3 linked regions of the Homo sapiens genome follow. The protein of the gene in region 3 interacts with the protein of the main gene of each other region in a pairwise test. Each region holds a gene or a part of one and is shown on either strand. Other genes may lie near its edges. The genes, in order: SULT4A1, CD1C and ATXN10.

The links.
Region 1: the proteins of ATXN10 (region 3) and SULT4A1 interact in binary tests that used the Homo sapiens proteins (3 or more experiments, as listed by UniProt).
Region 2: the proteins of ATXN10 (region 3) and CD1C interact in binary tests that used the Homo sapiens proteins (3 or more experiments, as listed by UniProt).

What each region holds. Positions count from the first base shown.
Region 1 is NC_000022.11:43,861,152-43,864,902, forward strand, and holds the start of SULT4A1 (sulfotransferase 4A1), read right to left. Parts: upstream 1,363-3,751; 5' UTR 1,232-1,362; coding exon 1,063-1,231; intron 1-1,062. UniProt on the Homo sapiens protein: Atypical sulfotransferase family member with very low affinity for 3'-phospho-5'-adenylyl sulfate (PAPS) and very low catalytic activity towards L-triiodothyronine, thyroxine, estrone, p-nitrophenol, 2-naphthylamine, and 2-beta-naphthol.
Region 2 is NC_000001.11:158,287,659-158,291,409, reverse strand, and holds the start of CD1C (T-cell surface glycoprotein CD1c precursor), read right to left. Parts: upstream 1,488-3,751; 5' UTR 1,346-1,487; coding exon 1,285-1,345; intron 277-1,284; coding exon 10-276; intron 1-9. UniProt on the Homo sapiens protein: Antigen-presenting protein that binds self and non-self lipid and glycolipid antigens and presents them to T-cell receptors on natural killer T-cells.
Region 3 is NC_000022.11:45,674,731-45,678,481, forward strand, and holds part of ATXN10 (ataxin-10), read left to right. Parts: intron 1-3,751. UniProt on the Homo sapiens protein: May play a role in the regulation of cytokinesis. May play a role in signaling by stimulating protein glycosylation. Induces neuritogenesis by activating the Ras-MAP kinase pathway and is necessary for the survival of cerebellar neurons.

The sequences.
Region 1 (3,751 bases), 1.8 Mb from region 3:
CCTCCACTGAGAGTCCCTACTCCAATCTTCCTCAGAAGAATGTCAGAGACCTGCCCTCAGGTGTCTGGAACTCCATACAGCTACAACAGCCAAGCCTACAGCTTTTCCTGAAACTGCCCGACTGCTGGTCCGGCGTGACCTTAGAGCCAGACACCTTCTAAACCACGCTGTGATTGCCTCAAATACAGTGGCAACAAGGAAATCCCAGGGCATGTTTACAGAACAGGAAAGCTGCTACCTCCTTTCCCTAAAAACCTCAGATGGGGTACTATACAATCTCCTACCTCAGGTCTGGAAACAGACCAGCCTAGCTTTAATTCCCAGGTCAGCCACTCACCAGCTGAGTGACCTTGGACCAGCCTCTTCCCCTCTCTGAGCCTCTGTGCCTAGACTGTAAAGTGGGAATGACCACCACTAGCTCACACAGCTGTTATTGTGAAAGTGACGTCAGCTAATGCTGGGAAATGTGAATGCCCCAGGTCCTGCCTCGGTGATGGAGGCAGCCCTGAAACAAGAGAATGTACAAGCAAGGCACTCCAGGCGGGGACTGGTCCCATCCCCCACCCGGAGCCCAGGCTGGAAAGGAGGGACGTTACGTTTCCACGCTGAAAGCCCTGACGCCCATGTTATCTCCCTTCCCAGGTGAACACCAGGACTTTGCACTCATCAAAGGTTGGGCAGGATTCAGGAACAGAGAGGTTGAGTGACCTGTCCAAGGTCACACAGCCAGCCAGGTAAAGGGAGAAGCAGGGATGGGTGGCGGCCCTGGGCCCATCCTCCTGCAGCGCCGGCCAAATAGGCTCCATCTCCACGGAAGGGGCCGCTCCCGAAGGTCTCTGACCTTGGTTTCCCCAGATGAGAACCAAGCCCCTTCCCACCCCCACCCCACCCCACCCCGCCCCGCAGGGATCCGAGCATCGGGAGAGCGGTGGGCACGGCAGGGGCGGAGGCCAAGGGCGACCACCCGGCCCAGCAGAAGCCCCGGGCGCGGGCGCGGCGTCTACGCGGCCGCGCTGCAGGGCTGGGGCATGGCGTGGCGGGCGCGGTCGGCGCGGGGCTCACCGGACTTGGGGTAGGTGACGATCCACACGTCGCTGGGCCGCACCGGGAAGTTGGCGATCTCCTCCATCTTCCCGCGGCAGAAGGGCGGCAGCCGCACGCCATGGAACTCGAAGTACTTGCTCTCGAACTCCCCCGGGGTGCTGGGGGTCTCGGCCTCGCTCTCCGCCATGCCGCCGCCGTCGCCGTCGCCGCCGCCGCCTCCCGGCTCGCAGCCCGCACGCGCCCGCGCCCGCGCCCGCGCCCGCGCCCCGCACACGCTCGCGCCCCACCGGCGCGCGGCGGCAGCTCCGCAGGCGTGACGTCATGGCGCCGCCGACGCGCGGCGGAGGCTCCGCGGGTATGACGTCATGGCGCCGCCCGGCACGCGGCCGCGGCGCTGCACGGGCGTGACGTCATGGCGCCGCGGAGCCGCGTCCTCCCCGCCCCGCCCCCGGCCGGGGTCACCCACCCGCTGCCGGGGCTGACAGAGACCCTGGCCCGCGGTCTGCAGCCTCCTCAGTCGTGCGTGCGTTCATTCCGCTCATAGCTTCTGTCACTCAGCAAGCGCTCAACACAGACGCATGAGATACCCTGGCTGGAAGGCCCTGAAAGGTAGTCGTCCATTCAACACGTGCTTAGCGCGCTGCTGATCTGTGCCAGGCACTGGGCCAGGGCCCCGACACGCGTCAGGGTAGAAGCAAGCAGAAGCCTGGCCCTGTTGGAGCTTACATTGGTAAATAACCAAGATAATTTCAGGTAAATATTAGGTCCTATTAAAAATATGCGTCTTCGCCAGGCGCGGTGGATCACGCCTGTAATCTCAGCACTTTGAGAGGTCGAGCACGGGCGGATCTCCTGAGGTCAAGAGTTCGAGACCAACCTGGGTAAATGGTGAAACCGCATCTCTACAAACATACAAAAAAAAAAATTAGCAGTGAGCTGTGAGCTTGCACCACTGCACTCCAGTCTGGGCAACAGGACGAGATCTTCTAACAACAACAAAAAAAAAGTATGGGCCACCTAGTCCAGCCAAAAAAACAAAGTGCTTTTTTTTTGCTTTTTTTTTTTTTTTTTTTTTTTTGAGATGGAGTCTCGCTGTGTCGCCCAGGCTGGAGTGCAGGGGCGCGATCTCAGCTCACTGCAAGCTCCACCTCCCGGGTTTACGCCATTCTCCTGGCTCAGCCTCCCGAGTAGCTGGGACTACAGGCACATGCCACCATGCCTGGCTAATTTTTTGTATTTTTTGTTTGTTTGTTTTAGTAGAGACGGGGTTTCATCGTGTTAGCCAGGATGGTCTCAATCTCCTGACCTCGTGATCTGCCCACCTTGGCCTCCCAAAGTGCTGGGATTACAGGTGTGAACCACCTCGCCCAGCCAAAAAGTGCTTCTTAATATCCCATGAGTAGGGGAGGGGAGTGTTGGATTGCAAATTCCAGGACCCCAGATCTATGGAGAAAAATTACAAAAATATACATTTAGTAAGGCACTTCTTGTGCAAACTATAATTTGAGAGCAACCGAGTTCTAGAGATCTCAGTGCAACCCCTTGCCAGTCATGCACTCAACAGACATATATGAAGCACCTACTAACATGCCTGGGGAAGCACAAAGATGAAAACAACACAGCCTGCTCTCATTCTCTGCAGCCGAGCATCATCAGCTGTGTAAAGGAAAAGAATGATTCCTACCTCTAAGTAGTGTAGCCAGGAAGATGGAAGGAGTTTACACCAACAAGAATCTGGAGCAGAGTGGCTGGACGGGACCTATTCCTACTCTCTCCTTCTTACTGTAGAGTGAGACACGTGCATTCTGACACCAAAGACATACACATGGGCTGAGAAGCGCAGGCCATGTGTACATAGCAGACAGAGAGAGGAAACAGCAATTAATCCTGACTTGGGAAGCTTGTAGATGTCTTTCCAAAAAAGAAAGAGGACATTCCGAGCACCCAGCCTTTATTCAGAATAATTAGGCCAATGGCAAAAGGGCATCTAGCCAAAAGCTAGAGGGATTGAGTGAATGAATGAATATCCTGATGTTTCAGGTGAGGGTTCTCACTGTGGGAGAAGGAAAATGTAAGTGGGGAATGCGAGAAGGCAGGGAAGAACTCTATGGTATTGGATTGGAATTGGAGGTATTGACATGAGTTTATGATATTTTAAAATTCCTATTTCTTATATTTGCTGGAAAAGCCTTTAGGCAGTGATATCTCAATAATACTAGGCATACCCACTGCCCAGATCTTTGCTAAATACTTCCCTCACCAAATGAACCTGGGGTTTCTTGGAGAAAAAGCCAACTCCAGGGCAAGGAAAGTACAAGATGAGCCTAAAATGTCTTGTTGAGTCTTGAACTCCTGCAAGTTCAAAAATGTTGGGAATAGGTCAGAAGGACACAGGGTATAACATGAAAGTATTATCATAGGTCAAATCGGAAACAATTTGAGCATGTTAGACAAAAATGGGAAAAAACCCACGTACCCAACAGTAGAATAGATAAATTGCGATATATTCATACAATGGAATACAGTAATTTTTTTAAAAAAGGAATGTAACTGAGAAGAATGTCACAGTCAAAATGATGAACAAACTAAGTCAAGCACAAAAAATGGTATGTCATATGATTCTATTTATATACAGTCAAAACCAAGCAAAACTGATCTATAGTGATAGAGGTGAGAATAGTCTTAACCTGGGGCATTGGAAAGAGGG
Region 2 (3,751 bases), on a different chromosome or scaffold from region 3:
TGAACTTACATTTCGAGTAATCTTGACTTGCATGGTCTTGAATCTCCCGAGTTAATCCAAAGAGGTAGAAACGAAATAACAACTCTAGGTCTGACAACTCTTCATTGCTGAAGTTGCCCTTGGACCAGTTATGCAGGAAAATTATTGTGCCTGATTCACTGTCCCAGCCATGAGTCTGCAACTCGTCCAGCCATCCTGAGCCCTGACCTCGTGCCCAGGATTGGTTGACAAATGAGAAGATCTGGATGACATGGAAGGAGACGTGTTCCTGGGATGCTTTTGGTGGAAGAAGGGCAAGTAGTGTAAGGAAAAAAAAAAAAAGAGAGGCAAGGAAAATGGAGAGAAAATGGAAGGTGAACCAGTTACCACAGAGAAACATTAATGACTACTTTAGCTATACCATTTTCCTTACACAGAGCCCCATGCTCTGCCACCATCCTCTAAAAGAGTAAACTGGACCTGGAGAGAGGTATGCTCAAATGGCAACCATTCTGGCTTCTTCATTGATCCATCTTGGGAAAGCCCATCATGCTCAACCCAGATACATGTAACCTTGCAGCTGACAGAGATGTTCATACTATCTGCATTGTCACCACCGGGGAGGAGAAGAACTAGCAGCGGAAACTACAGAAACAGCATGTCATTTGCAGTTGTTTCCTTCTCTCAGAAAAGCCATTTGCTGATCTCTGTTCTTAGCAAACTTATCCCTCTACATCTATATTCTGACTTCCTTCTACCAACAGACAATCTTCCCCATCAGCCACTGACAGCAACTAAGACAATCTGCTTCCCTTAACCTTAGGCCTCCTACTCAATCTCTCATTTCCCCATCTGCTCTGAACTAAAGTTACTCTCTTCCCTTAGGATTTTAGCTGCTCTCCCACTAAGCTCCATCTTATCTACTTCCCTTCCTCAACTGCCTTAGACAAAGTGGTGCGTGGCATTGAAAGGTTGCTTCATCCCTCTGGACCTTGCGTGTCATTTGTAACATAAAAAGGAGAAACCACATCATTTTCCTGGGCCCTGATTGTTTTAACGGAAAATGGAGAGGAAATGGAAATTGAACCAGTTACCACAGAGAAACATTAATGACTACTTTAGCTATAACATTTTCCTTACACAGAGCCCATGCTCTGCCACCATCCTCCAAAAGAGTAAACTGGACCTGGAGACAGGTATGCTCAGATGGCAAGCATTCTGGCATCTCTATTGATCCATCTCGGGAAAGCCCAGCACACTCTACCCAGATACATGTAACCTTGCAGCTGACAGCGATGTTCTTACCGTCTGCATTGTCACCACCTGGGAGAAGAAGAGCTAGCAGCAGAAACTGCAGAAACAGCATGTCATTTGCAGATGTTTCTTTCTCTCAGAAAAGCTGTTTGCTGATCTCTGTTCTTAGCAAACTTATCCCTCTGTACCTATATTCTGACTTCCTTCTACCAACAATCTTCCCCATCAGCCGCTGACAGCAACTAAGAAGATCTGCTTCCCTCAACCTTGGTCCTCCTACTCAATCTCTCATTTCCCCACCTGCTCTGAACTAAAGTTATTCTCTTCTCTCAGGATTCCAGCTGCTCTGCCACTAAGCTCCATTATATCTACTTCCCTTCCTCAACTGCCTTAGACAAAGTGGTGTATGGCATTGAAAGAAAGGTCATTTTGTCCCTCTGGATTTTGCATGTCATTTGTAAGATAAAAAGGAGAAACCATGTCATTTTTTCAGTTCCTGCTTGTTTTAATAGATCACAGTTCTTCCAGTTTCTCCACTTAACTTTGCCTCCACTCTCCATAGTGTCCCCTCTTCTCATCACTCCATTCTTTCTTTCCCCCTTTTGAATGTCCTCAAAGTTTTCTCTTTCCAATTTCACCTCTTTTCACCCATCTTTCTTATTTCCTCATTCTCACTGATTCTTTTATAAATTGGAGACGTTGCTTTTTACATCTTCCAAGATTTCCCTGCACAATTATATAAACTACAGTCCACTCTACATTATCCTTAGAGATTAAATTGCAGCCATTCAGAATGCATAGGACCATAACAAATATAAAGAAGCCCTTCTACTGCATTTAATCTGTATAGTCATTCACTAAAAAATTACATAGTACATGGTTGATACCAGTGTCTTACTAGGCATATAAACACACAGAGGTTAACAATGTAATCTCTTCTATCAAAGAGTTTTAAACTGCAGATGTTTAAACAAAAAATTAAAATGCATTGTGATTTTAATTTCAATGTATAGAATCCCAGATACAAATCTACTTAGAACTATATTCTCTAGAGCAGCATTTTGACTGACTAACCCCCTGGGAAGTTCATAATTTGAAGTCCTGGAAGAACAGCATGCATCTCAACTAAATACTGAAAATTCTGTACAGTGTGGAATGGTATACGATTGTGATAGTCAGAACATGCAGCTTTTCAAGAGGACTCATACATGGGGAGACCACAAAAATCCAAATTTAAGTTGTTTTGTGATCTGACCAAAACACATTGTATAAAAAGGGCAGCATTTGTCAATGTTTGATTTAAGTAGTTTATATGAAGTATTCAGTGACTTATCAGTGACCCTGGCTGGTTAATATGTGTAAATACATGAACACAGTTTTTTTGAGATCCAGGAAATACATTTATTATTATAGTGTTTCTTAAATCATATTAATTATTCACTGAATGCATTGGAGCAGTCACTTAAAATCTGGGCATGAATTTGTGCTAGGCACAATGACTCATGCCTGTAATCCCAGCACTTTGGGAGACCAAGGTGGGAAGATCACTTGAGCCCAGGAGTTTGAGACCAGCCTGGGCAACAAAGTTAGACCTCATCTCGATAAAAAAATTAAAAAGTTGGCCAAATGTGGTGGCACATGCCTGTAGTCCCAGCTAAATGGGAGGCAGAGGCAGGAAGATCTTTTGAGCCCTGAAAGTCAGGGCTGTAGTGAGCCATGTTCATGTCACTGTACTCCAGCCTGGGTAACAGAGCAAGACCGTGCCTTAAAAAGGAAAATCCCATTTGTAACATTGTTTCTGTTTTAAATTTATATTTATTCTATGTATTTACTGTGTACAACATGATACTTTGATATATACACTATTTCTTAGGTTTGTCAACGTTAATAGTGAGGCCAGAAGTCATTCTCAATGAGCTCTTCCTATCATGGCCACAGATATGTGGCAATTTCTATGAACTATAATATCTTTAAGAGCAATACCCAGTTCAAATCCTACCCAAATCATTCATAAGCACTAGGTGTTATCTTTGCTCATCTTGTGCTGTTAATGGCAAATACTTGGTTTGTGGTTTTAGAAAACAATAGTAGATACCACATTATGTGTTTATTCACATTTTTTTCCATGTTCCTACAGGAAAGATGCAACTGTCCTATTTCCTAATAGTTGGGTTAAGGTCATGGACTGAGTTCTGGGCAATGGAATGTGTGGTGTTGGAAGCATTAGCCAGCTCCAGTCCTGACCACTGAAAATATCACATCTGATCATCTTACCCTGTGGTACCAACTTGGCAGTCAAATTTCTAAATGGCAAGACTATGAGATGGAGAAGAGCAGCCTGATCTACATGCAGTTTAACTGCATGAGAAATAAACTTCATTGTGTTAAGCCTCCAAGTTCTAAAGTTTATTTATAACTGCAACATAACCTAGCTATATTGGATAATATTATAAAACCCAGTAAGTATCATCCTTTTTGCCCTCTTGAATTCAGAAGCAAACAAGTTGAAAATAACATG
Region 3 (3,751 bases):
AGACAAAAAGCAAAAACAGTGAGGAAAGTAATTAAGAGATTCTTCTCTTTTGGTGGAATACATTATTTCTCTAGGATTCCATTTTATATTTGAAGAATCATAGACATAATGTAGTTGGTGGTCCTTCTGAGCTCTTCCATGCTACAAAACAAACTTCTGTCAGTGGTAGCTTGAGTAATAGAAGTGTCATGCAGTGGGAAGAGCAGTGGCTTTGGAACCATGGAGACCTGGATGTGAATCCTGGTTTAGTTTGTGAGGCTTCTTGTTTCTTTCCTTGAAAACGGGATGATGGTAGCCACTTTGACAGATTATTTTGAGGATCTGTAATATTATATGTGTAGCATAGTGGTTTATGCATAGTAAATGCCATTTATTTAGGACCTGTTATTAAAATATAACAAGGTTGTAAGTGACCAAGAATCCATTTGTGTTGAATCTCCTGTCTTATCAGAAACAAAAATTGCAGCTATTTCAGGAAGACAGTTCTAATTTTGGGGTTTCCGGAGAAGGGGATCTCAGGATCTCATTACAATTTTAGCAGCCCCCAAGTGAAAAGAAATTCTTACATCCCATTGTGGGAATTTTAAATATGTCCACAAATTCTTTGATACTCTGACCTTCTCAAGAGGAGGAGGTTAATTCTTTTCTCCTTGAGTGTGGGCTGAACTTAGTGACTTGCTCCTGAAGAGTAGAATATGGTAGAAGTGACAGTGTGCGACTTCTCAGACTAGGTCATAAAAAGCATCGTAGTTTCCTCTTTGCTAGCTCTTTCTTGAATCACCCACTCTGACAAAGCCAGCTGCCATGTCATGAGGACACTCAAGCATCCATATGCAGAGAGCTGTGTGGTGAGGAGCTGAGGCCTCCTTTGAACAGCCATGTGATGAACTACCTTGGAAGCAGGTCCTCTGAGCTCCAGTCACATCCTCAGCCACGTGTGCAACCTCATGAGACACCCTAAGCCTCTCAGATCTGTGTGAGATCATAAATGTTATTGTTTTAAAATGCTAAATTTTGGGCTAATTTGCTATGTAGCAATACATCATTAATACACCAGTCTTAATTCTCCATGCTGTGTATTAAATGCATTCTGTAACCCACTTCTTAAACAGTGTCTTGGTCACTAAAATAATTTAAACATATTGCTTATGGTCATATAATATCAGTATTGAGATATTCCTCAGCTGTTTCTTCTCTGTGTAAGATAATTCTTTTTTCTCACATTTGTTTTATACTTTTTGTTTAATGTAGATATCACCGTATTTCACATTTGTTTAACAAGTGATTTATCTTGCTGTGAGTCTTTGCAAGTCATGTTAAATTCTTTCTGAACAAGTAAGACAAACATTTAAAATTCTATTTTAGTTGCTCCTTTAATTATTTTTCTTTTTTTTTTCCGAGACAGGGCCTCACTTTGTCATCCAGGTTGGAGTGCATTTTTTCTAGAGAAGGGGGTCTCACTATGTTGCCCAGGCTGGTCTCGAACTCCTGGCCTCAAGTGATCCTCCTGCCTCGGCCTCCCAAAGTGTTGGGATTACAGGCATGAGCCACCGTACCTGGCTAGTTGCCTTTATGATGCATCCATGAGGCATCTCCAGACCCCACAAAGTGTAGAGCCAGGTGAGATGGGTTGTCATACTCCATCTGTGCTGTTCATTAAGTAGCCACTAGCTACATGTAGCTACTTAATTAATTGAAAATAAGTAAAATTAATGTTTCATTTCCTTAGTTGCATTAGCCATATTTTTTAATTTGTTTTTTTTTTTTTGAGACAGTTTCACTCTTGTTGCCCAGGTTGGAGTGCAGTGGTGTGATCTTGGCTCACTGCAACCTTCGCCTCCCGGGTTCAAGCGATTCACCTGCCTCAGCTTCCCGAGTAGTTGGAATTACAGGCATACGCCACCACACCTGGCTAATTTTGTATTTTTAATAGAGACGGGGTTTCTCCACGTTGGTCAGGTTGGTCTTGAACTCCCGACCTCAGGTGATCCGCCTGCCTTGGCCTCCCAAAGTGCTGGGATTACAGGCATGAGCCACCGTGCCCTGCCCTTTATTACTATTTTTTTAGAGACAGGGTCTCACTCTGTTGCCCAAGCTGGAGTGCAGTGGCACGATCATAGTTCACTGCATCCTCGACTTCCTGGGCTCAAGCAATCCTCCTGCCTCCTTCCCCAGTAGCTGGGACTACAGGTGTACACCACCATGCCCAGATAATTTTTTTGTTTATTTTTTGTAGAGATGGGGTCTCGCCATGTTGCCCAGGCTGGCATTAGCCATATTTTAAGTGCTCATTGGCCACATGTGATGTGACAGCACAGATATAGAATATTTCCATCATCACAGAAAGTTCTGGAAATAGTGCTCTTCTGTAGTAAGTTTTCTATAGGGGAGATTGTATTTTGACTCTTGAGTATTCTTGAAATAATGGAACATTTGGATGCTGCTTTCTATAAATTCATCTCATACTTAAACTGATACCTCATTGGTCTTCCACCTGATGAGCTTCTTGAATGAAGTGGGCACATCACATTCACTGTATGCCTGGCATCTAGCATAGAGTTGATAGTGGCAGATGCTTATCAGTTTCTTGTGGAGTTGCTGCTATTTCTATAACTTATTACTCATTGCACTTGCTTGGTCTTTTTCTTAGTCGTGTAGACAGTAATTTTTTTTTTCAGCTTCTATCAGTATAGCTCATTTTTTCTCTTCAATCTGCTTAGACAAAATGAGGTTTTCGTTGGTGTTTAATTTAAAAATTAAAAAAAAATTCAGGCCAAAAGGTCTTAAAAAAAAAAAAAAGAAAAGGCAAGTCCTGGACTTAGAGAAGTATTTAAAATATATATGATAAAGAAGTTGTTTCAGAATATATGAAGTACTCCTACCTACAACTCAATAAAAAAGACTCCTACAACTCAATTTAAAAATTGGGCAAAATCTGTGCTTTACAAAGAAAAATAAAGGCCAATAAGCGTATGATAAAGTGCTCCAAATCACTAGTTATTAGGGAAATGCAGTTAAAACTTCAGTGAGAGACTACTGCATGCCGTTTAGGATGGCTATTATCCAAAAAATGGAAAAGAACAAGTATCGTTGAGGATGTGGGGAAATGGGAACCCTTGTGTGTTGCTAGTGGACATGTAAAGTGGTGCTGCTACTATGGAAAATAATTTGGTGGGTCCTCAAAAAGCTAAACATGGAATATGACCAAGCAGTTTTACTCTTAGGTATGTGCCCGAAGAAAATGAAAAAGGACAAATTCTGTATGATTCTGCTTTTATGAAGTACCTAGAACAGACAAACTTGTAGAGACAGAAAGTAGATTAGAGGTTACTAGGATTTGGAGAGAGGGGAAATTGGGAGTTACTGCTTCATGTTTACAGAGTTTCTATTTGGGTGTTAAAAAAAATTTTGGAAGTAGAGGTGATAGTTGTACAACATTGTGAATATAATTAAAGCCATTGAACTGTAGACTTAAAATGAACAACATGGCAAATTTTATGTTATATATATGTATTTTACCACAGTTAAAAAAATTAATAATACAATGTACCAAAATCCATTTAATTGTACGCTTTAAGTGGGTGACTTTAGTGTGCCACGTGAACCCTATCTCAATAGTGCTGTTATAAACAAATCCATAGTAAGGTGCCTCTGCATCCCTATTAGAATGGCTATAATGAAAATGAGTGACACTGAATTTTGGTGGGCATGTGAAGCTATATATTTATGATTTTTAAAAAGTCACATTGTT